Homo sapiens: one gene and its partners. The protein of the gene in region 1 purifies or fractionates together with the protein of each later gene. This does not show direct contact. Each region holds a gene or a part of one and is shown in the gene's direction. Other genes may lie near its edges.

The links.
Region 2: the proteins of PON2 (region 1) and LRP11 purify together in Homo sapiens (affinity purification with mass spectrometry; 3 studies listed by BioGRID and IntAct, with this or other methods). This does not show direct contact.
Region 3: the proteins of PON2 (region 1) and POMGNT2 purify together in Homo sapiens (affinity purification with mass spectrometry; 3 studies listed by BioGRID and IntAct, with this or other methods). This does not show direct contact.
Region 4: the proteins of PON2 (region 1) and SPPL2B purify together in Homo sapiens (affinity purification with mass spectrometry; 3 studies listed by BioGRID and IntAct, with this or other methods). This does not show direct contact.
Region 5: the proteins of PON2 (region 1) and NXPH4 purify together in Homo sapiens (affinity purification with mass spectrometry; 2 studies listed by BioGRID and IntAct, with this or other methods). This does not show direct contact.
Region 6: the proteins of PON2 (region 1) and UGT8 purify together in Homo sapiens (affinity purification with mass spectrometry; 3 studies listed by BioGRID and IntAct, with this or other methods). This does not show direct contact.
Region 7: the proteins of PON2 (region 1) and NETO2 purify together in Homo sapiens (affinity purification with mass spectrometry; 3 studies listed by BioGRID and IntAct, with this or other methods). This does not show direct contact.

The regions. Positions count from the first base shown.
Region 1 is NC_000007.14:95,425,029-95,428,528, reverse strand, and holds part of PON2 (serum paraoxonase/arylesterase 2), read left to right. Parts: intron 1-3,500. UniProt on the Homo sapiens protein: Capable of hydrolyzing lactones and a number of aromatic carboxylic acid esters. Has antioxidant activity. Is not associated with high density lipoprotein.
Region 2 is NC_000006.12:149,819,360-149,822,859, reverse strand, and holds part of LRP11 (low-density lipoprotein receptor-related protein 11 isoform 1 precursor), read left to right. Parts: intron 1-2,156; coding exon 2,157-2,311; 3' UTR 2,312-3,500.
Region 3 is NC_000003.12:43,099,580-43,103,079, reverse strand, and holds part of POMGNT2 (protein O-linked-mannose beta-1,4-N-acetylglucosaminyltransferase 2), read left to right. Parts: intron 1-3,500. UniProt on the Homo sapiens protein: O-linked mannose beta-1,4-N-acetylglucosaminyltransferase that transfers UDP-N-acetyl-D-glucosamine to the 4-position of the mannose to generate N-acetyl-D-glucosamine-beta-1,4-O-D-mannosylprotein.
Region 4 is NC_000019.10:2,331,684-2,335,183, forward strand, and holds part of SPPL2B (signal peptide peptidase-like 2B isoform 2 precursor), read left to right. Parts: intron 1-2,918; coding exon 2,919-3,038; intron 3,039-3,500. UniProt on the Homo sapiens protein: Intramembrane-cleaving aspartic protease (I-CLiP) that cleaves type II membrane signal peptides in the hydrophobic plane of the membrane. Functions in ITM2B and TNF processing.
Region 5 is NC_000012.12:57,215,392-57,219,593, forward strand, and holds the start of NXPH4 (neurexophilin-4 precursor), read left to right. Parts: upstream 1-1,402; 5' UTR 1,403-1,578; coding exon 1,579-1,635; intron 1,636-4,202. UniProt on the Homo sapiens protein: May be signaling molecules that resemble neuropeptides and that act by binding to alpha-neurexins and possibly other receptors.
Region 6 is NC_000004.12:114,601,807-114,605,306, forward strand, and holds part of UGT8 (2-hydroxyacylsphingosine 1-beta-galactosyltransferase precursor), read left to right. Parts: intron 1-3,500. UniProt on the Homo sapiens protein: Catalyzes the transfer of galactose to ceramide, a key enzymatic step in the biosynthesis of galactocerebrosides, which are abundant sphingolipids of the myelin membrane of the central nervous system and peripheral nervous system.
Region 7 is NC_000016.10:47,109,446-47,112,945, reverse strand, and holds part of NETO2 (neuropilin and tolloid-like protein 2 isoform 1 precursor), read left to right. Parts: intron 1-3,234; coding exon 3,235-3,463; intron 3,464-3,500. UniProt on the Homo sapiens protein: Accessory subunit of neuronal kainate-sensitive glutamate receptors, GRIK2 and GRIK3.

The DNA.
Region 1 (3,500 bases):
TCTATAATTTCTATTAGTGACAGTCACAAATACTACTAATAGTATTGTGGTTTGTTGCTTATACTCATCATCAAAGGAAATACTCAATTTGAGTTAAAGGTTTAAATAAAGATGTATTTTTCCCCCATCCAAGTTCATGGATCCCTGAATTCTACCCATGGATTCCTTGGTCACTGGACTCCATAGGGGTCACTTGGGGAATGATTGTGACACCAATGAAGGAAGCCAGCGGATACTGTTTGCTGTATTATACCTACCATAGGCTCGTGATGAGGAAATAATAAAATAAATAACTGTAATGAAAAAGAAAAGAAAGGAAAACAAAAGGAACCTAAAACAGAGAAGGCAAATAGCTTTCCTTTTGAGTGTCAATTTTAACAGACTCCCTGTGGTTGCGAAACAATGTGTCTGAGGCTGGCTCTGGGTTAGAGGGAGAGTGCTGTTATTGATTAGCAATTCCTGCATGACAGCAGAGTGGCAACAGCCATGCATCTCTGACCTGGCACAGTCATAAGCATGTTATAGACATAAAGTGTTAGGGAACAAATAGGCTCTAGCAAAAGTAAAGAGTGTTCCTCCTCTCATATCATCACTTATATGTGTTTATACCATTTATGTTGTATTTTTTACATGAATACTTTTAGATTTATTAATCTAATCCAAAAAGGTTTGTATAGCTTTCTCTATATTAAGAGAAATATATGTATTTCTTAAATACACAAAGTTCTTAAATCTGATGCCAGCGAGGATTGCTTCCAGCCACAAGTAACATATATCAGATTAATAGTAGTTCATTCAAAGAGGGATTTATTTTCCTCACATGAAAAACAGCTCTGTGGGTGACCCAATATAGAGCTTGTTCATTGAGCCAGTGATTATATCAAGGAACTGGGTTCTTCATATATTTTCATTCTTTGATCTCCCCCTATTGACTTTATAGCTGTATCTTTCTCAAGGATGCAGAATGGCTGCCGCAGTCTCAAACACTGCGTGTGTGTTCAAATCATGAAGAAAGGAGATTGAGTGATGCCAGCTAGCTCTCTTCTCGTGACTCTCCTTTGTATCTAGAACACAGTGTCTTTCCCCAAAACCTGGGTCATATGACTACACCTCAATACAGCGGAGTCTGGGAAAGCAAATATTTGCTTTGCCCACCACTACAATAGAAACGACAAGGGAGAAAGAAAGGGGGTTGGGCATGGCGTTAATTTTGTCAGCCGCTAGGGTCTGCCACCCAGAAAACAGAAGTCCACTAACAAGCAGGGAACTGATTGTTCTGCCAGGGAAAAAGTCTGGCAGTTTCCTACTGAAGAAATTTGGAAGTCTTGATGGTCCAGGAAGGATAAAGGCAAAACCTTCATTTTCTTTTATCAAAAAGGAAAGCCAAGAAAAAAATTAGTTAAGTAGAAGTTATGCACAACCCTCATGTAACTCTTCCATGTTAATAGCAGGTAGGCTGCATATGAAAACATGATATTATACAAGAAAACTAGTTGATGAAGATTGCCCTATTTAGCACCAATTACTTACGCAAACCTAAGTTGACTCTGAAACAGGAACCCCATATTAAACTTTTCAAACACATCAGAATATGTTACTTTGAACAGATTTTATTTAATCCAAAGAGATTATCTTTGAAAAAGGTAGATGGTAAACATCGTTATCCCTATTTTTGTATAGTCAAATAGGCATAGTAGTAAGTTGTGTAAAATTGACATCCAAACCAATGCATGATACTAAAACTTGGTGTACAAACAGCAGTTACATCCTATTGCTTTGTATCTACATCTGTTTCTGGAGTCATATAACATTTGTAGAATCTTGGAGGTGTTTTAGGCTCATCCTTATTTTATCCATAAAGAAGACTGACACCTATAGAGATTAACTGACCTGCCAAGGGTCATGGCAGTTTCACTGCTGAGACAAGAACACAGATCCCTTTACTTCTTTCTGAGAAAAGTACAAAGTAGTTTAAAGCAAAAGCTTCCCTGCTTCCAGCACTTCTGGCTAAGTTGCGCCGTGGGAAAATTGTTTTGTCTGATTCAGTTTTCTCATCTTTTAAACTGGAATAATGCTACCTAATTTACAGGGTTGTTTGAAGAATTAAATGAATGCATGGAGGTAAATCACTTAGAACAGCGGTAAATTATACTTTTTTATTATTTATTTCCTTTGACCACCCACAATTATCATCAGTGTCATCCTCATCATCACAATTAAGATTACTACCACATTAGGCTACATAAACTTTTTTTTTCTCTCTCTGTTTTATAATTTCAATTTTATTTTAGATTCAAGGGGTACATGTGCAGGTTTTACATGGGTATATTGTCTGATGCTGAGGTTTGGGGAACAACTGATGCCATCACCCAGGTAGTGAGTATAGTACCCTATAGTTTTTCAGCCCTTGTCTACTCCCTTCCCTTCCCCTTCTAGTAGTCCCCAGTGTCTACCATCGTCATCTTTATGTCCATGTGCACCATTGTTTAGCTCCCAGTTAAAGTGAGAACATGCAGTATTTGGTTTTCTAGCTTATTTTTCCTCTCTTAAATCACTTCTGTGACACGTAGGCCATGAGATTTATTGTATTTTTTAATGCCTTATTTAAAAATTTGTATTATTTAATACATTTAATGCATTATTTTTTATTATATTTAAATATTGATTTATTTGTACTTTTTGCCTTATTGCTATATTGTTTCAAAAAATTTAACATTATTTGAGTTACATGATTTCAAATACATACTGATTAACATTTTAATTAGAAACTTTATGTCTGATATGAATTGCCAAAATGTGTAGTTGGTACAACCTATGAGTCATTCTGGGTTATCTAGAAGAAACTGGTAGCCTGCCCCATACTCCAGAAGCCTTCCCCAGTGTCTAGACCTCAGAAGCTGTCAGGAATATGCACAGGAGAAGGACACATGGCAAATAGCTATTTCGTCTCTTAAATGTATGGTATGTGGGAACCACTGAAAAATGTAAAGTTTCTACAAGGTGCTATTTTTATTATTTATGGCTCTAGAGAACAGAGAAGGTGAAAAATGTGAGAGAGAAGGGAAAGCCAATAGTATGTGGCCTTCAAAACAAAAGATCCCACAGATATTGTCCCAAACTGCTTCCTGGCCCTCTAGAGTGGAGAGGGAGGGGGAAGACATCCTATTAGAGTTCAACATTCTCTTATTATTTCCTTCTTTTAATTTTCTGGGTATACAACAGCAAATAGTTTTGCTGAAGTAGTTACAGAACTAGTTGGTGTTCTCCAACCTTCCTATTCCAATACATACTGTCATGGATGGGTACACTAAAATCTCAGAATTCACTGCTATATCACTCATCCATGTAACCAAAAACCACATGTACCCCCAAAAGCTATTGAAATAAGATAAATACATTCTTATTTAAAAAAATACTGTCATAGGGATGCTACCTTCTTTTCTTTTTTGTTAGTAACTATTTGTGGGATGTCTTTGGTGTGTCAGGCTCTGAGCAATGCC
Region 2 (3,500 bases), on another chromosome or scaffold:
ATGTCAAAAAATAAACTTACCTCCTTCAGCCACCCAACAGTCTCTATCATACATCAAAATCACTCAGGCAAAAATCCTACAGACCAGGTAGATGGACCACCTATTTTATTAATACAACTATGCTTCATCTATAATTCTATCATAGTAAGTATAACACTTTGTTGCATTTTTTCCCATTTAAATGTCTGTCTACCCAGACTTACTCGTTCAAAAACTGTCTCATTTACATTTTGTAGAAGTAGAGTACCATAGTGGATAGAACCACAGGCTCTGGGGCTGTCCTGTCTGGGGTTATTTGCTAGCTCTACCACTTAACAATCTTAGACAAGTCACTTCAGTCTTTTTTTTTTTTTTTTTTAAGACAGGATCTTACTTTGCCACCCAAGCTGGAGTACAGTTTAAGAGCTCACTGAAGCCTCTACCTCCCAGACTCAAGTGATCCTTCTGCTTTAGCCTCCCTAAGTATTGGGATTATAGGCATGAGCCACTGTGCCCAGCCTCACTTCTCTTTTTTTTTTTTGAGATAGGCCCTTACACTGTCACCCAGGCTGGAGTGCAGTAGCCTGATCATGGCTCATAACAGCCTCAACTTTCTGGGCTCAGGTGATTCTCCTACTTCAGCCTCCCGAGTAGCTGGGACTGCAGGTGCATGCCACAACTGGCTAATAATTTTTTGTAGAGACAAGGTCTCGCCATGTTGCCCAGGCTGGTCTCGAACTCCTGGGATCAAGCAATTTGCCCACCTCTGCCTTCCAAAGTGCTGGTATCACAGGCCTGAGCCACCGTGCCTGGCCCTCACTTCATTGTTGATGCCTTAGCTCCCTCATTTGTAAAATGGGGATAATAATAGCACCAACTTATGTGGTGGTTGTGAGAATTCAGTGATTTAAGCTATAAAGCTGGTATTCTTGGCCTTAGCTTATCTTGAGGGGGGTGGTATTTATTTACAAATAAAAGGATTATCAGCACTTAGCTCAGTGTCTGGCACATGGAAGAAGGCTTTTAATGAATGCAGAATGAATGAATAAATGAGAGCAAATGGTATAGAATGAGCCTACACAAAGGAGATGTTTCTCCTCTAGTTCTACCAGTTGGCAAGATCCCTACAGCTAAAAACAGTTCCACCATATAATCTCCAGACCTGGCCTGGCCACAGAGTAGATCAGACTAAAAATAGAGCCTGCTAAGCTTGATAAAAAAGACTGATATTGGCACACCCTGTCCTTCCAGACTCCTGCAAGCCTCGCTACTTCTACTCTGGTGTCTAGAATCCACCTCACAGGAAAAACTAAAGAAATGTTTTCCTTTAATGTCCAAAATCACACCAGCATATTTGGAAGTTAGTTTTCAACAAAGGTTCTACTGACTGAGTCAGTTCCCTGGATTTAGAAGGAAATAAATTTCTTAAGCCCTAACTAGAACAAGAAATCAGGAGTTAGTTCATACTTAGTTGAAGAATGATCATGTATGAATTCATAAATATAGTCAATGACTACAACAAAAAAATTTCGTGATCAGAATGCCTATTTCAGTTGGATATGAGTGATCAGATGGTAGTATGTGTACCCATTGATGCCATACAAATTTTGTAGGAAGCTGGTAGAGAATTTGGTTTTAAAGAGGTCTGTGTTGGCCGGGCACGGTGGCTCACGCCTGTAATCCCAGCACTTTGGGAGGCCGAGGCAGGTGGATCACGAGGTCAGAAGTTTGAGACCAGCCTGGCCAAGATGTTGAAACCCCATCTCTACTAAAAATACAAAATTTAGCTGGGCACAGTGGCAGGCACCTGTAATCCCAGCTACTCGGGAGGCTGAGGCAGGGGAATCGCTTGAACCCAGGAGGTAGAGGTTGCAGTGAGCCGAGATTGAGCCATTACACTCCAGCCTGGGCAACAGAGCAAGACTCCATCTCAAAAAAAAAAAAAAAAAAAAGTCTAGGTTTGGGACCTGAACCTACAACTTACAGCCTCCTAGGCAAATAAGCAAATTACTTAACCTTGGTACACCTTAGTTAATCTGCAAAATAGTGATAATACTAATAACAATTTGTTTGGATTAAATAAAATAGTGCATGCAAAGCGCGTATCATATAGTGACCAGTAGCTGTCACTGTGACTAATCACTGGCTTGCCCTCTTCATGTCTAACCTTCTCAAAGGTGCAGTGCTACCCCTGGCGCTGGGTTTGGCTATCACTGCTCTGCTGCTTCTCATGGTTGCATGCCGACTACGACTGGTGAAACAGAAACTGAAAAAAGCTCGTCCCATTACATCTGAGGAATCGGACTACCTCATAAATGGGATGTATCTATAGTAATGTAATTTCAATACCTTGGGGCAGGGACATGTTTTGTTTATAATTTATACATCTATTAAGTTCTGGATATTTACAGCTTCTTTTGTTTTTAATTGGGCCAGAAGATTCTGCAAATCCCAAATCTTTCTTTATTATTTATTGTAAAAAAAGTTTCCTTAGAAGTCATAAAATATTTTGAAATTTAGAGAGGAATTCATGATTAAAGATTCCTAAAAATATAATTCTGATTTATGTAAGCTGTCCCTGAAAATAGAAATGTGTACTTAGCTGAGAGAAAATTCAGCATCTCAGGAGGTGGTATTAGGATGACTGTGTTAACCCATTACCTTTTAGAAGCCAACTGTTGGCCCCTTACCATGCTGGACTGCTATAGGCCCAGCTTCCCCTTGTTCTGTGGCCCTTTTCTTCCTCCTTGAAGCTCCCAGTATTCTTTTTCTTTTCCCCTCTAAACCTGTTTCTGAGAGTGGATCTCAAGCAAGTTCATGCCTTCAATCAGATGTTACTTAGGGTGGGTATACCTAAATTATAAACCTTATGTACAAGTCAGTAAGCCTTAGGGAAGGTGAGTGTGGGTCCTTCCTAATCCCTCTGACGTCATGTCATATAGGTGGCTGCCTCCTTAGACTGACCTTTGGGAGAAAAAAACCCCAGACTTTGAATTAGTAACAGCTCTAAGATGGTCATGCAGTGAGATAGGAAATCAAGATGGAAGCAGAGAATCTGGCATGCCAAAAACTAACAGAAACTTAGTTGAAGGCAAAGAGAGCAAGGAGAACGTTTAATACTTCATTACATCAAATCAACACTGCTCCATGGTGAGAGCACAGCAACTCATTTATATATATATATATAGGCTTTGTTGATGAAAAACGACAATTGAAGAGAGGACGTTGAGTGGATTCCTGGGTACAGCTTTTGTAAAAATGTCACCATGGCTTTCATCCAATGGAATGAGTCGATGTTTTTTAATGCTATAAAATGTTAGAATGTGCCATCAGCTAATGCCAGGCTTACGTATTTCTAGACCATAAAGCAGTTTTTCACAAATTCATCTTTACAGAAAACCAGCATCTAGCTTAGCATCTTTCCCCTTTTAATTTGTAGGCTTTTAAAGGCAAATCATTCCCACCATCACTTAACGCCGGGATTATACACATTCTAGAAATGATTCTGAGAGGAGTGTATA
Region 3 (3,500 bases), on another chromosome or scaffold:
CATGGGATAAATTATCACACTAGTATGTTACTTAGACTCTCCTTAGGGTGAGAGAATGGCCACAGCTCCCTAAGCCACCTGTCACAGCTGGGTACCCTCTGCCTGGCTGGGTGGGGAGGAATTACAGCAAGAAGCCTTGGGTTGCTAAGTTACAGTCCAGGGCCTGTGGTTCTACATTTCCAGGGCCACCACACCTGCTCTGCCCTTGACTAATAAAAACTCACTGCTCTACAGTCTACTCTGCTTATCTGCCATTGAGTGTTCCTCCAAGTCTGATGACAGATGAGCACGGTACTAAGAACAAGACCTTAGTGAGAGGCAGGTTCAAATCCTGGTGGCCCTTCTTGAGCTTTAAGACCTTAAGCAAGGTACTTAACTCCACTAAAACTTGGTTTTCTCATGTTAAAAGAAAATGGGGATAATATTGGTACTGCATTGGAGGGTGAGGCTTAAATGAAATAGGTCAGGAAAAAGGCTTAAGACAGCGCCTCTCGCATAGTAGGTGCTCAGTAAAGTAAGATGGTGAGACCATTCATCTTTATCCCCTACCCAGAGGCCAACATCCTTTTTTTCTTAGTTAACCTGGACAAGTCCTTTTGTTTTCTCTGGCTTCCCATGTCTGCACTGGTACATACTCCAGCACCTCTAAGAGAATCAGATCTTTCACTCTGCCAGTGGTGACTGCCATTGGTACAAGCTTATGCTACAAATTTATCTGTTTTCTCCATTCTGAAAAGGCTAAGAGAAGGCCCCTTCTTTGCTGTGTAGTTGCTCCTCAGCCCTGAGCTAAGCCTTAGGAAGGGACTGGGGACCTGGTCTGCTGTATTGCCACACCCAGTGATGAAACACACCCCGGGGTCCTTTGACAGTGGAGGTTTGTGGCAGGAATCATGGCACATCCTGGAGTGGCATCTGGAGTTGCCACAGTTGTGCTGGGTCCCAGAGCTTCCAAGAGAGTCACACAGTAGCCATTGTAAGGAACTGGAGATGCTGTCCAAATTTGCTCTGTTCAGGGGCTTCTTTCTCGGGGGACCTACCTCCTCTCTGCTGGCCTGCAGGGATGGCCATCTCCCTATGTCCTCTACTGGTGGCTGCTTTAGACCCAGACTCCATCCTTAGTCCATTTAGCTGTGGCCAAGAGACCTGGACTCGTTTCTTGCCACTCCCACACCACAAATGGTGCACTTTGTGTGGGAAGGAATGGGTTGGGGCAACTTGTCTCAAAAGGGAGCTTAGAGTCTGGCGGACTTCTCAGATTGTCCCAGAGCTTAGGCTTATGCATCATCTTAGCAAAAGGTAGGAACAGAATTTATTTAGCCTTTACTGATACTTATGGGGAGGGTTATTCTCAATTGAATTAGTTGTTTAACCTGGGCTAGATAGAAATGCCTTGCTGAGTATCGCAAAATTGTGAAATGTTAGAAGAACCTCAGAGCAGTTCCCCTCAGTATTGTGCACACGCAAGAATCACCTGGAAGCTTTATTAAGACACAAGTTCCTGGGTCCTCATCTCAGAGAGATTCTGGTTCTGCAGGTCTGAAGTGGGGCCCAGGATTCTGCATTTCTCAGATCCCAGGTGATACTGCTACAACAGGTCCACGGATCCACTGAGTCCTGCTTTGGAAGACACCATGGCCAGCCCTATCCCCGCTGTGGAGTAGTCCACATGGGTTGTTTTTGTTTTTTGCTAGACCACTTCCAGGCAGGGGCTCACTGCCCTACAAAGTAGCTGATTCCTCCATGCTCAAACAGCTCTAGTCTTTAGGAAAGTCTTCCTCCAACTGACCATGCTGAGCTCCACCTCCCCATGACTTCTTTTTGCAGTTCTTACTCTAGGTCCCTGAGCAGCTGGCACAGCTGTGCTGGGCAGGACAGAATGGGAATCATATGTGCCCATAGTCCACACTTGTGCCTAGGGCTTGGGTTGCACGTGTCACCATCATGCATGTGTGTCCAGTCAGGTAGAAGGGGTTGCATCCACTCCTCAGGAGCAGCCTCACTCTTGTGCAGCAACTCAGGTATTTGAAGACACCATGGGTGCAGGGGCTTCTTTTCTCCAGTAAAGTGGCCCTACTCCTTCTAGCATCCTACACAGTATAGGGGTTCTCAGTCCTTCCTCATCCTGGCTGCCCCAAGGTGAGTGTCCCAGAAAGACTCACATAGGGTGGGGTTGTATTAATGACTAATTGTACAGACTCTAATTCCTCACGAAAATGCATAACCTGAACCTAATCATGAGAAAACATCAGACATTGAGGAATATACTAGAAAATAGCTGGCCCTGACTCTTAAAAATTGTCAAGATCATAAGTTGAAGATAGACTGAGAAGCTACCCCAGATCGGAAGGGACTAGAGAGCGGTGATAACTGGATACCATGCTTCATCCTGGACTGGATTCTGGACCAGAAAATAGAAACCATATGTTAATAATAATATCATTGTCATTATAGTATCAATATTCATTTCGTTAATTTTTGTGGTGTGAGAGAATGTTTTCATTCTTAGAAAATACATGCTAAAGTATTGAGTGCTAAAGGGGCCTGATTTCTTCAACTTATTTACAAATGATTCAGAAAAGAGAGAGAATTTGTATACAGTTGCCCTCCTCAGGGAGACTTGTTCCGGGATCCCCCACAGATACCAGAATCCAAGGATGCTCAAGTGCCTGTTATAAAATGGTGTCATTATTTGCATATAACCTACACAATCCTCCTGTATACTTTAAGTCATCTCTAAATTCTTTATAATACCTAATACAATGTAAATGCTATGTAAATAGTTGTTATACTATATTGTTTTTAAATTGATACTTTTTTTGTATTTTTAAGTTTTTTTTGAATATTTTTGATCCACAGTTGGTTGAAGTCACATATGCAGAACCTGCAGATATAGAGGGCTGACTGCATATAGAGAGAATGATTAAACAAAGATGTCAAATTAGCAGTTGGTGAATCTGGGTAAGAGTGTAGGAGAGTTCTTTGTCCTATACATGCAACTTTTTTTGTAAATTTAAAATTATTTCCAGATAAAAAGAAGGAGATCGCAGACCCTGTAGCCAGCCTACCTGGGTTAGTCTTATCATTGCTTCCTCTGTAAACTTGGCTTTCTAACCTTTCTGAGCTTTGATTTTTACCATCTATAAAATAAAGATTATCATTGCAAAGTGAAGAATCTGGCACCTAGTGATTGGCCAGTAGATCTTAGCTATGATAATATCATTATTATTAGGAAAGGGAGGAGTTGAGGGTGACATGGTGGTAATGAGACCAAAGGAAAACTCAGCCTAATTCTGTCACCTCCTTCTGCTTGCTGATGTGGGATCTCAGGGTCCCTGGGTATCTGGCAGGGACCTGGCTGCCATAAAGCGTCACCCTGCAGAAGGCTTTGCAAGTAGTCACCTGAGCCCATAGGGCTCTACTGTTGAAACCCAGGTCTCCTGGCAGCTTTATCTCCTGCCTTCCCTGGCACTTCTGTGCCTGCCCCACAGCCTGGGCTCCCC
Region 4 (3,500 bases), on another chromosome or scaffold:
TTCCCATTTTACACAAAAGACACTTTTCACCAGAGTCCCTGATCCCATAGAACAGAGCTTGGCAAGTGTTTTCTGGGAAGGGCTAGACAGTAGTTTTGCTGGGCTCTGTGGCCCACGTGGCCTCTGGTTTGGTTGCTTGGTTTCTCCTGTTGTTCTTCCAGAGCCGGAGACCCTTCCTTAGGAATGGGCTTGGCTGTGTTCCAATAAAACTTTATTTACAAACACAGAAGGTGGGCCGGACTGTGGATTCTTGGCCTCTGCCGTGACCCATAACATCCCTCCTGGAGGAGGGGTTCTGGGGGGCTGTGTTGGAAGGGGCACCCTCCGGGCTCGGCACCGGGGCCAGACTAAGGGGTGCTCTCACGGGCAGGCAGTCTGGTGGGCAGAACTGGAAAGAAAGGGCTCCTGACTCTGCCTGGGCTCTGGGGGAGGTCACATGGGAGGTGCTTGGAGTGGGGCTGGGGCAGCTGTGGGAAGGAAGCAGCATTAGCCAAGAGCTATGAGACCCCCAGTCGATTGTGGGGACCGGGGCTCCGTGGGCTTTCACCATGCTGCCACCCCGAGGTCACCAGGGCCTTGACCCAGATGCTCCCAGACCAGGCCGGAGACTTTGCATGATTTCAGTGATGAGGGCCCGGCTGTTGGAGAGCCCGTCTGTGCCTGTGTGCTGGGGTTGGTGTCTGGCACCAGGGACCTTTGGGACCTTTAGCCAAGCCAGAGCTGTCCTTCCCCAGTCCTAGCTTGGCAGAGCTGCGTCTGCACTGTTTTCCCTTGTGGCGTTGTGGTGTCGGCCCGTTTGGTGCGCAGCTCAGCATCCGTTCAGACATGTGGCTGCCATCCTGTTCCTGATGAGGCAAATGGCTGTGGCCTGTTTGTTTCCGTGACAGGTCCCCTGGGGACCAGGGGGTGCGGCTGTCTCTCTGTCTGGGAGGTTTACAGCCTGGCAGGAGCCCTGCAGCCCCAGAAGGCTGAGGGCTGGGTGCTCCTGAGAACGGGCAGGCCTAGGGCATGGGGTGGGTCTCCTTGGTCCCTGGCACGTGGTTTTTCTTCTGGGACCCCTCCTCCCTGTGCAGGCCGGGCTCCCCTGGGGGCCCACACTGAGGGTCTGCAGTGTGGCACAGCAGCTGGGACCTGGGCCCCATCGCTGTGAGACCCTCTGGTGACTGGCATCCTGGCGAGATGGAGATGTCTTTGTCAGCTGCTGGGTGGGGGCCCTGGGCAGGGGAGCAGAAGGAAGGTGGGGATGGCAGGTGCGGGCGGCTGGACTGGGCTCTGCTGGGAGGGGGAGCAGGAGGAGGGTGGGGATGGCAGGTGCGGGCGGCTGGACTGGGCTCTGCTGGGAGGGGGAGCAGGAGGAGGGTGGGGATGGCAGGTGTGGGCGGCTGGACTAGACTCTGCTGGGAGGGGAGCAGGAGGAGGGTGGGGATGGCAGGTGCAGGCGGCTGGACTGGGCTCTGCTGGGAGGGGGAGCAGGAGGAGGGTGGGGATGGCAGGTGCGGGCGGCTGGACTAGACTCTGCTGGGAGGGGAGCAGGAGGAGGGTGGGGATGGCAGGTGCGGGCAGCTGGACTGGGCTCTGCTGGGAGGGGAGCAGGAGGAGGTGGGGACGGCAGGTGCGGGAGGCTGGACTGGGCTTTGCGGGAGCAGGAGGAAGGTGGGGATGGCAGGTGCGGGCGGCTGGACTGGGCTCTGCTGGGAGGACCGTGGTTCTGCCTAGGCCAGAGCCCTGCAGTGTCCGCCGTGGTCCCTGCGGTGGGAGGCGTGGTGAGCAGTGCCAGCTTCCTGCTTGTGGAATCCGTCTTTCCTCATAGCTCCATCCTGCTCTGTTAAGCATTAAATTGAAGAGGTGGGGGTCGTCCCTTCTGGTCCAGGCCCGTCTACTCCGCAGCCCTCCTGGGAGGCGTCCAGGGCTTTGGGGCCTGGTCCTGCCCCCTACTTCATTTTGAGAGCGTGGCAAGGGCCCCAGCCCGTTCTGTCCTGGGCGCGGTGGCCACCACCCCTGCTTCTCTTGGCTGGCTTTGGCCTGTTGTCCCCGTTGTGTGTCAGGGGCTCCTGCCCGTGGATCCGGGCCTTCTCCCTGTGGCCTTCTCTGAGCTGCTGCTGCTGCAGGCTGGAGAGCAGGAACTTGAAGCCCTGGCTGGCTGTTCCTTCTCCCTCCTGCGAAGTGGGAGCTGCTGTGCTGGACTCTGCTGCTTTGGGGCTTCATGGGGAACATGACGCTGTCTGTCCTGCTGGTGGCAGCGTGACCTGTTGCAAACCTCAGCCTGTCCCACTCAGGACCCGGTGCCCGTAGGCCCCTTGGCCCACCTGCTTCCTGCTGTTCTACCAGTGGGAGCTGAGGGGTGCTGATCTGGGGATCCCCCTCGTCTGGGCCCCACCGTGTGCCTGGGCCCCCGTGTGCCTTGGAGCACCAGCCAACAAGCAGTGCCCACGGGGCTGTGGGTCAAAGGCCACCCAGACCTGAGGGGTGCAGAGGCTTGCTTGTCCAGGCCTCCCGCCCAGGCTGGGGGCCAGGTCCGCTGGGGCCCTGCCCTGCTTCCCTGCTCAGGGCTCTGCCCGTGGCTCTGCCCGTGGCTGTCATTCTCCCACCGTGCCCACTGATCCTGGGAGGCCCAGGAGGTGGTGCGATCCCTGTTTTTTGGTGCAGAAACTCGGGAGCCACAAAGGGGTGACCTGACACACTCATGGTCACCAGCCTGGGGCTCCCTGAGGAAGGTGAGCCAGTCTGGGTCTTTGCTGTAAACCACGTATGGTCACGTCCCTGTCTGTCCTGTCGAGAGGGGGAAGCATCCCAGACCACCTGGTGAACATGGGCGCCCTTCCTGGAGGCGTCCTCCCCTCCTCGGGCCTGTTTCTCGTGGGGCGGTGCAGCCCCGCACGTCCCGTGCTGTGGCTCTGACTGCTGGCCTTGTCCTGCAGGTGGCCTGTGAGTACGGCATGGTGCACGTGGTCTCCCAGGCCGGGGGCCCCGAAGGCAAAGACTACTGCATCCTCTACAACCCGCAGTGGGCCCATCTTCCGCACGACCTCAGCAAGGCAGTGAGTACCCGCTGGCCGGGCGCCGCTGCGGAGGAGAATGCGGGGGCCCCGGGGCTCTAGAGACACATCCGGCTGGGGTTGCAGGAAAGATCCAGAGGCGAGAGGCAGGCCCTGACCAGGTCTGGGGGACTCTTAGCTGGCCCCCAGTTCCCCTGGGCCTCCCCAACCCTGGTCATCAATGCAAGCTGTCCATGCGGCCTTGGGGTGCAGATCCAGAGGCACCGGCCGAGCTCCATGTGGTAGATAAGGGTCTCTACTGCTCCATGCCGGGGACCCTATCCAGTGGGCCCAGACAGAGGGGTCCTCAGAGGAGTAACAGCAGAGGGCACAGTGGGGCCCCAGGGACGAGACCTGTTCCTTTCACCGTCTTCCTGACTGGGGCACTAACACCTGCTGCTGGATGAGTCCCTCCCTCAGAGGCCCCACCTCCTTTCCCACTTAGTCCTCATGCCCCGCCTCCTT
Region 5 (4,202 bases), on another chromosome or scaffold:
TGTCTCCCTGGGTGTCTCTGAATCTGCCTCGTCCTCTCAGCACCGGTCCTTTTCCTGACTCGTGTGTGTGGCTGTCACGTCCCATATCTATCTGTCCATTTCTTTGTATGTGCCCCCACTTGTCTTCTGGGCTGCCAGTGACAGCATACACCTGTGTATGTCTCAGTGTGTGTGTCCACCTCTGTGGGTGTTTGCTCTCTGCCAAGACAAAGAGAGGGTGAGCGCACTGAGCAACTGTCTGGGTGTGCTCGTCTGGGTGCAGGTGTGCTCACCTCTGTTGCTGTGCTCCTCTGTGTGTTGGGGTGCCGCTAGGTGTGCGCCTGTCTCTGTATTTCGCTCTGTGTGCCCTGTCCCCGTGAAGGCATCTGCGTGCATCCCTGGGGTGGGCTCTCAAGGGATGTGTCTGTCTCTCAGTCTCTTTGCTTGTCCCTATCTCTGTCTAGGTGTTGGTCATACCACAACCTCAGCCACAGCCTCAGTGCATAGCAACAGCTGACAGCTGAAACCACCCGGGCAGGAGAGAGAGAGGCAGTGGGGAGGAGGGAACCGAGGAAGAAACAGAGAAGAGGATGGGGGCAGAGAGCTGGGGCTGGGGACAGAGACAAGGACAGAGATAGGGAATGGGGACAAGGATCTAGAAGAGCTGGTGGTGAAAGATGGGACGGCGGGAGGGGAGGAACAGAGACTGCACCAAGAGGCCAGGCAGGCGGCGCTGAGAGGGATTTCCTGCCCAGCCCCCATGCAGAGGCGCACTGGGCCTCGTGGGGGTCAGTGGTGGGGGCCAGGGGCAAAGGTGAACAGCCGGTCTAGCCGAGGGGTCCTGAGACCGCAGAGGTGCGGTGAGGCGGGGACGGGGCGGAGGGCGCCGTTTGTCAGCCCTATTGACAGACGTGATGGGGTTTCCGTCCGTGATCAATGATTCTCATCTCCGGGCCGAATGAGCCGCGGGGCGCCCATCCATCCCCGTCAGCATCGCGCGGCGGCAGCCGCCCGAGGCCCCGCCCGTCCCCACCTCGGCCCCTGCCCTGCGCCTGCCCCGACACACCTTGGCCCTGAACAGGGCAGAGGCCCGGGGCTTGGAGAGCGTCGTCCGGCTGGGCTCCGCGGCGCCCCCACTCCAGGTGCACGGGCCCGGAGCCCAGAGCCCCACGCCCTGCCCCGTTCCTCCTGGGCGCACAGACGCGGCCTCTCGGGGGACCAGTGCCTGAGCCCCTCGACCCCCTCCGCTTCGCACCTGGGCCAGGGGCGTGTCCGGGGCGTGCCGGTGTGAAAGTCACCTTCGGTGCCCCCAGCTGGGCGGGAGGGGGCGCGCGGGGCGCGGCCGGGATTGGAGCGCCGCGGAGCCCCGCCCCCCGCCCGCGGAGTCAGACCCAACTTTCTCCCCCGCCCGCGCCCCGCCCCCAGCGCCGGCTCCGCGCCTCGCGCCCAGTCCGCGGGCCGCGCCGCCGCTCCCGCCGCTCCCGCCGCTCCCGCCGCTCCCGCAGCCGCCCCGCCGCCCGCCCGGAGCCCCGCGTCCCTAGGCCTGGCTCCCGCCTGCCCGAGACCCGCCCAGCCTGCCCCGCTCAGCCGCCAGAGAAGATGCGGCTGCTCCCGGAATGGTTCCTCTTGCTCTTTGGCCCGTGGCTCCTTAGGAAGGTAAGAGTGGCAGGGCTGGGGCGCTAGCGCGGGCGCGGGGTTCCGGGACGCGAAGGTCCCAGTGTGCGAGGGGCTCCGTGCGCCCGCCCCGCCCCCAGCTCCGAGCGTCCCAACTTTGCGCGGCGCGGGGGAAGCGGACAGACAGACTGCCCGATTCAGGACGGGCACTCTCCTAGCGCAAGTTGGCTGAGGCTTGGAGAGGGTGCCGGGCGGAGGTCCCCCTTGCAGCCGACTTCAGGCGCGGCGGGGGAGGGGACGAAGCCCGACCCGCGAGTGCGCCAGACAGAGCGGGAGTGCGAGACAGACAGACAAGCCAGCAGGGTGTCAGCCTTGCCGTCTTTCCGCGCCAGTCTCGCTCGCCTGCCTCACTGTCTGTCTGTCCTTCCACCCCTCCACCCCCGCCTTCCCATTTCTCTTCTCTGCACTTGTCACCATGCCAGGTGGGCTCTGTGTCGGGAGCATCCATGGCCCGAGCACACACGCACACACGGACTCAGGCAGACACGGCTGAACTTGGCTACAGCCAGCCTCCCATCACATTTCCCACGGAGACACCATCTCCCCTGCACGACCTCACAGACACACCCCCCTCTCGTGCCCCACTGAAGGGGGAGGCTGTCTGGAAGGGGAGTCTCTCCTCCCATGCCCTCCCTGCCTCCAACCCCACTCCAAGGCCTCTTTCCCTGAGGCTCTCGGGCGAAGAGCCAGAGGCTAAGGGAGCTCAGACTTGATCTGCCTCCTTCCTGACTTGGAGGCTTCAACCTGCGAACATGCTGTGCTCATATGTGCTGGGTGGAGGGCGTGGGTCACCGTGTGCACCTGTGTGCATGTGTCCAGGGAAGCCAGGCTTGGTCCAGTACTGGGGCCGAGGGTACATGTGTATACTGGTGTGGTGTGTGGTGTTGGCTTTGCATGAGTGAGTGTCAGTGCCTGCCTCACAGTGCAGCCATCTGCCTATGCCCCTGGTGTGTGCCCGCAATGGGGGCCCAGGCCCCAGTCCCCCATTTTCCTTCTACCAGCCTCCCCTGCCTATGGCTTCCCTGTTTTCTGACCCCCAACTGTGACCTACCTAGTTTGGGGGCAGGCAGGTCATTCCCCAAACCCTCATTCTCTGTACCCTCAGCCCCTGTAGAGTCTAGAAGGGGTGTATTTCTTCCCCCAACACTTGGACCTCTGCCTGCTCAGCCAAATCACATTTGGCAAACCCCAGCAGGGCAGGGGCTGCCCCAGTGAAGCTAGCATTAGAGCTCCCTGGCCCTCCCAGCCCCACCTGGTGACCTTGAGGGGCTGCACGGTAGGCAGAGGAGCCCCTCCATGAAAACTGCTTCCACTAGCAGGAGCTTCTTAGGGACTTGCTGCCCAACTCTGTCCTTAGTGAACTGGAGGAGTGGGGGGGGTCTGTGCCCTACCACCCACCCACCCATGTGTGAAGGCCTGGGGTCAAGAGGTGGTAGGTATGGCATTCTCTTGCCCCTCCTTTCCACTTCCTCCCACCTCATCTCCACTCTCCCAGGCAAATAAACTCCCCTGTGGACAGATCTGGTTTAATTTCCTTTGCCCCCTGAGGGGGAATGAAACATCTGGTGGAGACTTGAGTGAGAGTGAGCGTGAGGATATGAGCAATGGGATCTATCTGAGTGTGTGTGTGTGAGCTGCAGCTGTGGGGCCTCCGTGTTGGAGTCAACAGGGAGAGTGGATCTGCTGGTTAGCCCAGCTTATGTGCATGTGAGAATGTGTTTACATGTGTACACACTGCGGGTGTGTGAATATGTATAACTGCACGGGGAGGTGTGGGTATATGAGTGTTTGTGTGTCCAAATACCTGTGTGTGCTTCTGTGCACTTGTGAGTGTGGCGTATGCACATGTATACCCCGGGGTTTCTGGTGCATCTGTGTGCTGGGGCCCATGTGTTGTCTGTATGAGTCTCTGGGGTTTGTGAGTGTGTTTCTGTGTGCTTGTGATTGTGAGTGCATTTGAGTGTGCTATGAGATTGTGAGCCTCAGGATGTGTTTATGTATCTGAGTGTGGCTTATGTGTGTGGGTGCTCAAGGGTGTCTTGGTGCCAGCACTGGGAGTGGGCAAAAGGTGAGGCTGATCCTGGGTAAGAGGTGGCTAGGGGACAGTTTACAGGGCAACTTTTTGGCAACCCTAACCATGAACGGCTGACACCTCTGCCTCTCCCGTCCTGCTTGCTCACCCTCCTCCAGGTTTCTCTCCCTTCCTCCTCACTCCAGGCTTCCCATTTCTCAGAGCCTGGGACTCCTGGCTTCCACTGCCTCTGGGGTTCTGGCCTCTCAGCCAGGGATTCTTGAGGATCTTTCTCATACAGTCTCTGACTCCTTTCCCTCTCTCTCTGTCTCCCCGACCCCTTGCCAAAGCAGCTGCCTACTGGGAGAAGCAGCAGGCGATCAATAGTCACTAATCACTAATCACTAATTACTAATTAGCTGGGGGAGGGCAGGGGCGGGGCCCTGTGGGACCTGCCAGCTCTATCCCGCCTCAGGAAAGGATTAGGTCTGATTCTCTTAGAGCTGGCTGGCCGAAGCCCCTCAGCCAGCTACCCCCT
Region 6 (3,500 bases), on another chromosome or scaffold:
GAAGTACCATTCTTCTTTTTATGTTTTTTTTTTTTTTCTGGGTCCTCTTTCTGTTATTGGCTATCACTTTCTGCTGCTGTCAGACTGTGAGTGGGCCCTGCTGCTCTATTATCTGTTGTCTTTTTTTCCATCAAATGATGTGGGCTATTGCCCGAGTGTAAATCCTGTAGACTTTGTGACAGACACTTTCAGTTTACGTGCTTTATTTGTGGTTTGGACTGTGAACTGAAATGTTTAGGTTTCCAGAAGGGTGACCTCTATATAAAAGGTTTTAATGTACCTTTTATAGAAAAAATTTGTGTATGAGATCTTTAGGAGGGTGTATTAATTTCAGACAATTCAGTCTTCTGGAATATCTTGGTGTTTCTGAGAAACTGAAGCAGCCTTTAAAAAAAAGTTTACTTTCTTATGATAGGCCCAGATCGTCTTTGTTTAGGAATATGTATACTAGAATATTTTACATATTACTTTCTGCCATTGAAACTTACTAACTATAATGTAGTGTAGTTAATATTTTTCTACCCCGGAAGTCCAGAATAAGAAGTATGATTTGAGAATCCTGCTAACCATACTTGAGGCTACATGAATTATTTAAATATTATTTTGCAAATCTACTTATGGAGGAGGTACATAATCAAATACATATGATTAAAATGGTTTAATTTGATCTTGAAAACAGTGGTAATCATATCTCCTTAATCTGAAGCATTTCACAAACATTCATTCTTTTATTCAACAAATATTTGTTAAAAGCATACTGTGTGCCAAGCACTGTGCTCTGGGGATGTGCATACAATTAAGGCCCTGGGAGGGCTCTAGGTTTAAAAGGGGGAGACAAGGAGGAAACAGGCTATTTTCAATATCTACAGTATAGTGCTGGCTGTTCTGTAAGTGCCGTGATAGAGATACACACACAGTACCCTGAGCAGAAATTTGGAAGTGGTCAATTCTGTGTGGGGACAGGAGATTTGAGGGTTTCTTAGAGGGTGACATAAAAGATGAATCACTGGAGGCAGGAGCAAGATCATGGAGGGCTGTTTGCCATTCTCAGGAGTATGGACTATTTTCAGTTTAAGGTTGTTTTAAACAGAGGAGCTATGTGATGAGAAAACAGCTCTTACAGCAAGCAATCTAGAAGGATGGATCTGAGGAATGTGAGATTTGGATGGTAGTTTAGAAGATATTGGGGTGGCTTTGGTAAGAGAGGTTGAGGTCCTTGTACCAAAGTGTTGGCAGTGGGATGAAAAAAAGGGGTTTGGTTACAACGATATTCAGGTGGTAGAACCTCTAAGATTAGGTGACCAATTTGGTTGGAGGATTGGGAGTGGGTGGTATAGGAGGATGGGATGGGAACTTAAAAGGAGATCCAGATTTGAGAGCAAGAGTGATAGAGTTCAGTTTTAGACATGTAGAACTTGAAGTGCTTATAGAAAATCGAACTGGAGATGTGTGTCCAGTGAATCATTGTATGTGAGTTCTGAGCACAGAGGTCCTGGGCTAGATAGGCAGGTAGATAAATGGTAGGTAGATAAATGGATAGACACACAGAAACATTTAGGAGTTTTCAGTGTATAGGTAATTATAAACCGTGAAAGTTGATAGGTTTTCCAGGGCAAGTACCAAAAGTTAATAGGGAAACAGAGGCCTGGGGAGATCCTAAAATTTAAGAGTTGGGTAGAGAAATAGGAAGCAATAAAGAAAAACGAGAAGGTACAGAACAAGAGAGGCAAGAGGAGAGTTAGGAGGGTGTAACTTTTAAAAGCAGCTGAAAACTGAGAAAATTTCAGAAAGTGAGAAGGTCAGGTACTGAAATGAGGGGGTGTTAGACAGTCTCGGTTCCCACCCCCTCTCGAGCCCCGAATAGCTCTGTGACCTTGAGCTCACAATTTAGTTTCATTTCCTCATTTAGCAAATGAGGGGAGAAGCACCTACTTTATAGGGCTACTGTGAGGATCAGATGAGATAAAATCTATCAAGCACAATGCCTGGGAGGTTACTCCTTTGTGTTTAACAAATGCTACCTGTTTTATGGAAACCAGGACTTGGATTTGTGATTAGAAGGTCCGTAGTCATTTTTGCTTTCACAAGTACTCGCTCTCAGAATTCACAGAGAGTGATTGAAAATATATTTTTAAGATGAAAATTTGATCATACTTTTAACTTTTTTGGTTAGAGGCCAGTAGAATAGCAGCCATTGAAAGTTTTGAAGGGAGCAGAGGGAGCCAACTGAACAAAAGTCCTTGAAGAGAGAGTGGAAGTTGCCTCAAGAGCGTTGCAGAGATGTTGGGTTTCTCAGGACAATCCATGCTTCCGCCAGTCAGGAGGGTCTGGTGGCATATGCATTGTGTTTAAAAAGCACCTGGTAATTAAACCTCCAGGTTTCTAATGTCTTGTTTAAAGTACTCTTAGTATTTTAAGTGTGTTCTAGTTCCTTAGATAATCTATAAGGACATTGATTATACATTTTAGTATTAGCTGAAAATAAACTCAGAAAACAATACAGATGATTTCAAAATTTAACAAAATGTAATTTAATATTTGATGATTCCAAAGGCACCTCTATACCTCATAGGGTCTTAAAAATCAACATGTGAAAAATAATTATTAGCCTGTGTAATAGGGGAAGGACTGATTTGTAGAGGTTTGTTTGCTTTTTTTTTTTTTTTCCCCCAATTAAGACTACTATGGTAATATTTAAATATACCTACTTTTTTCCTAGGATTTTCTGTTTGGATGAAGTGATGCTTTATATTAGAGATTAATAAACATTTTAAATTAGATTTCTATTTTAATATGTGTATAAGTTTTTTACTCTGTAATTACTGCATAATTTGAGAAAATGTTTACATCTATGCAGTGGTTTGGAAGTCAACCAACAATTGCACATAGTACATATTGTTTACTAATTGGTTATAAGGCATATAATAAATATTTGTTGTCCCAATACATGTTTGTTGAATAAAACAAAATTAGATATTCCATATTTTTAAGATGAAATGAATTTTATATCTGTAGTTTTAATATTTAATCATATTCTTTACCTGAAAATCGCTAGCCATACTTTTCGTTTTCAGCACTTCTCTATTTTGCAGTTGTGTTTCAGTGCTTTTTTTTTTCCCACTGTGCTTAGTCCTTCACGATTTATGGCCCTGTTATTTGTAAAGCATAGTAATCTAAGCAGGTGATTTTCAGTTTAGGATTTCTTCTAGTTCCATGTTGTATATTCACCAAGTCAGTTTTAGACTATATATTGTCATGCTCAGCACTCCCTTACAGAGATAACAGATGCCAAGTTGAAATTGACTTATACAGAATGCCACACTTAGGTAAGTGTTTAGGAGTGCATAGCCAAAATAAAAATGGTACCTTTGGTTTATGAATGGCAGGGCATCTAGGACAGTGTAGGTCAGTTCGTATTCTCTGGATGGACATTTATGTAAATATTAAAACATTTAGATTAGATGGAAAGATGTATAGTAGGAACATTTCAGAGATACTGT
Region 7 (3,500 bases), on another chromosome or scaffold:
TATGGAACAATACAACATATTTTTATAGATATGTAAGTATGAAAATATTAAGTGTGCTTTAAGTGAAATTAAACAATATTTATTAGATCTCATTCTTCATTGAAATATTCCTTGAAAAGATAATTCCATATTCACAAATTTTTAGGAGCGTTACCTGGAATATTGACTATAGAAGAATGTTGTATTGCTTTTAATAAAAGTAAATCAGTTAAACTTAAAAAAATTATTACAGTTGACATGGGAATTGGATCAAATTTTAAAATTTGAATGTTTAAATGTGTAAATAGGCCAGGCGCAGTGGCTCACGCTTGTAAACCCAGCACTTTGGGAGTCTGAGGCAGGCGGATCACTTGAGGTCAAGAGTTCGAGACCAGCCTGGGCAACATAGTGAAACCCCATCTCTACTAAAAATACAAAAAATTAGCCAGGTGTGGTGGTGCACACCGGTAGTCCCAACTACTCAGGAGGCTGAGGCACAAGAATCTCTTGAATTGGGGGTGGAGGCTGCAGTGAGAGCCGCGATCACGCGACTGAACTCCAACCTAGGAGACAGAGTGAGATTCTGTCTAAAAAAAGAAAACAAACAAACAAAAAAGTGTAAATAGATGGTTTTATTTAAGAAATCTAAATTAAATGTTAAAAGTCACCATTACCCTTGAATACTAAATGTGAGAAACTAGTTCATGGGTGATGTTTAAGAAAAATATCCATTTATAAATATAAAAAGAAGCCAGTCACGGTGGCCCATGCCTGCAGTCCCAGCACTTTGGGAGGCTGAGGCGGAAGGATCACTTGAGCCTGGCAGTTCAAGACCAGCCTAGACAACATGGCAAGACCCTGTCTCTATTTTTAAAATTAAAAATATATTTTAAAAATAAATATACAAAAGAAGGCATCGATGTTTAAGAGTATACAAATAGTGTTTTAGTCCACTTTTATCAGTGGCCTTTTCATGATAGTAGCTTTCTGGGGATTTCATTTCTGTTGGGGTCTTCAGGGGCTCCAATAAATAGCATCCCTTTTCCCTGGTGGAGTGCTGAACCAATTGAGAAATAAAAGTGTCAGTGTGTAGGGAGTTGGAAAAGCCTCTTTACCACAGTGAAGGCTAGGATAGAGAGAGCAACGCAGAGAGATGATCTAATTAGTGTTGGCAACTCCTTGCCCACCAGTTCTACGTCTCACCTAAGTCTAGAACAGCCCATTCCACTCCAGGGAAAGTTCGCATCTGCAGAGCAGACCGGCCTACCCAGTCCCACTTCCTATGAGGGGAGGGAAAAAGAAACCAAACTCCCACCATCCAGGTAACTTGCCCTGCCTCCCTGGGTAGGATATAGGGATAGGGTAAGAGGTCACTTACTTGATGAAAGTTGTAAGTAAAAGATCCCTTCTCATGCAATCTGGAGTAAAAGAAAAGTAGTTTATGCCCTTCTCCCAACATTGCAATTTGTCAGATTCACGTTATGAATATTTCCCAAAAATTTGTTGAACTAAACAATTCAATATTTAGCTGTATTTACAGTAGAAAAGTGCTGTGATCTTGTTATTATTTATCTTTAACTCGATGTTTTTTTAAAAATATGTCTTTGAAGAGCATTTACTATAGCCTTATATAATACCATATTTATTTGGATTAAAAGAAAAGCAGAGAGTAAATATAAATACTTCAGACAGCTTGATTATTCTACTGATACTTCTACCAAGTCATAGTTTTACAAGCCTAGTCACTTTCTCATTGTCTGCCATGAGCAAGAATTATACTGGATGAAACTGAGCCAGTGACCTTCCATTGGAAGACATCACAGTCTAGTGGAAGAGGGAAGTCATTACAGCATTAGAGCTCGCTACCAGAGTGTGAGCGGAGGGTTTGGGTTATATAAGTGATGGAAAACTAATGAGAACTGTTGATATATTTAAGAAAACATATTGCTTCTTTGTTAAAATACACGCATGAAGACTTTGTAAAGTTTTGAACTGGAAATCCTATTTCATTACCAATTTTCCACCATTCTCACGGAAGTGGTGAACCAGTCATTTCAAATAAACCAAAATTATTTAGTCAAAATGTAATTCTTTAAGCTATATTTTGTAAGTTGTTCTCTCTTAGTTTTATGCCATCAAGGTATTTGGTGGGGTGGGGGGGGAATATATGACATGACATTTTTGTTTTATTAATCTCTTCGAATTAAAGGGTAGATGTGGCATACTGCTCCCTCAGAAATAATAGCTAGGAAGTGAATACTCATTAGATGTCTTGAATGGCAATTCAAAGGTAATCTTTATTCACTCACTCAAATTTTATTTTAATGATAGAGTCACATATGAGAAACTAGAGCCCAAACAGGGAACACTGTGTGAGTATGTAAAGCGCTTCATGGAATGAGAAGGACGCACATTTAGAGTCAGACCAACCTGGGTTTAATCCTTGCCACCGAATAACAGATTCATCTCTGCCCACAAAAAAACATGATACCTACTTCATTAGGCTCTTCTGGAGATTAATGCTTAAAATCTAAATTCACAATGTAAGAGAAATCGCCAAACAAGAATGGGTCAAGAGTGTTTAGGAAATAACTTAGAACCATTTAGCTATAAAATTTGAATGGGGGATGCTAATAGAGCTTCCTTTGATAGTACAGTTGACGTCTGCCTGTCTGAAAATGCAGGTATTGTTAAGAGGTGAAATAAAGCAACCATGTAGAACAGTAGGATATTGTGTAAATAAATAATAGGACATCCGGGAATAGGTATGGCTAAGAGTATAGATAAAAACATTTTTATATGTTACAGCTAAAGTAGGATGTGTATATCTTACAATTAAACACAGGTTTTTTTAATGTGCAGAAAGAGTGAAAAGAAACTCACCAATTAATCACATGCATTGTTGGAATAATAGAAATATGAGTGATTATTTTATTTTCTCCCCTGTCCAGTACCATGAGATTGCTTTTATAATGAGAAAAATGTGAGATAGTTATGCCTTGTGAGCAAAAAGTTTCTACTCTTTATAGACAAAACACAAAGTAAGTTCCTTAATGCTTGGTTCCATTATAAAGACAACCAAAGAAACAGATCATTAATCTTAGTTCCTCTCACTATTTAGGCATCAGCCATTTATCGATTATGGTTTTCTGTCAGCTGTCATTCGGTGTCCCATGTTGTCTGTGGAAAATAGAAATAGAAAAATTCAAATTAATATATCTTTTTAAAAGCAGTGTTTTTGTGTTAATATTACAGATTTATTTGAGGTTCCTAGATTATCAAATGGAGCACTCAAATGAATGCAAGAGAAACTTCGTTGCAGTCTATGATGGAAGCAGTTCTATTGAAAACCTGAAGGCCAAGTTTTGCAGCACTGTGGCCAATGATGTAATGCTTAAAACAGGAATTGGAGTGATTCGAATGTGGGCAGATGAAGGTAGTCGGCTTAGCAGGTTTCGAATGCTCTTTACTTCCTTTGTGGAGCGTAAGTAAATAATTCCTATAGTATTGAGATCTTTTAC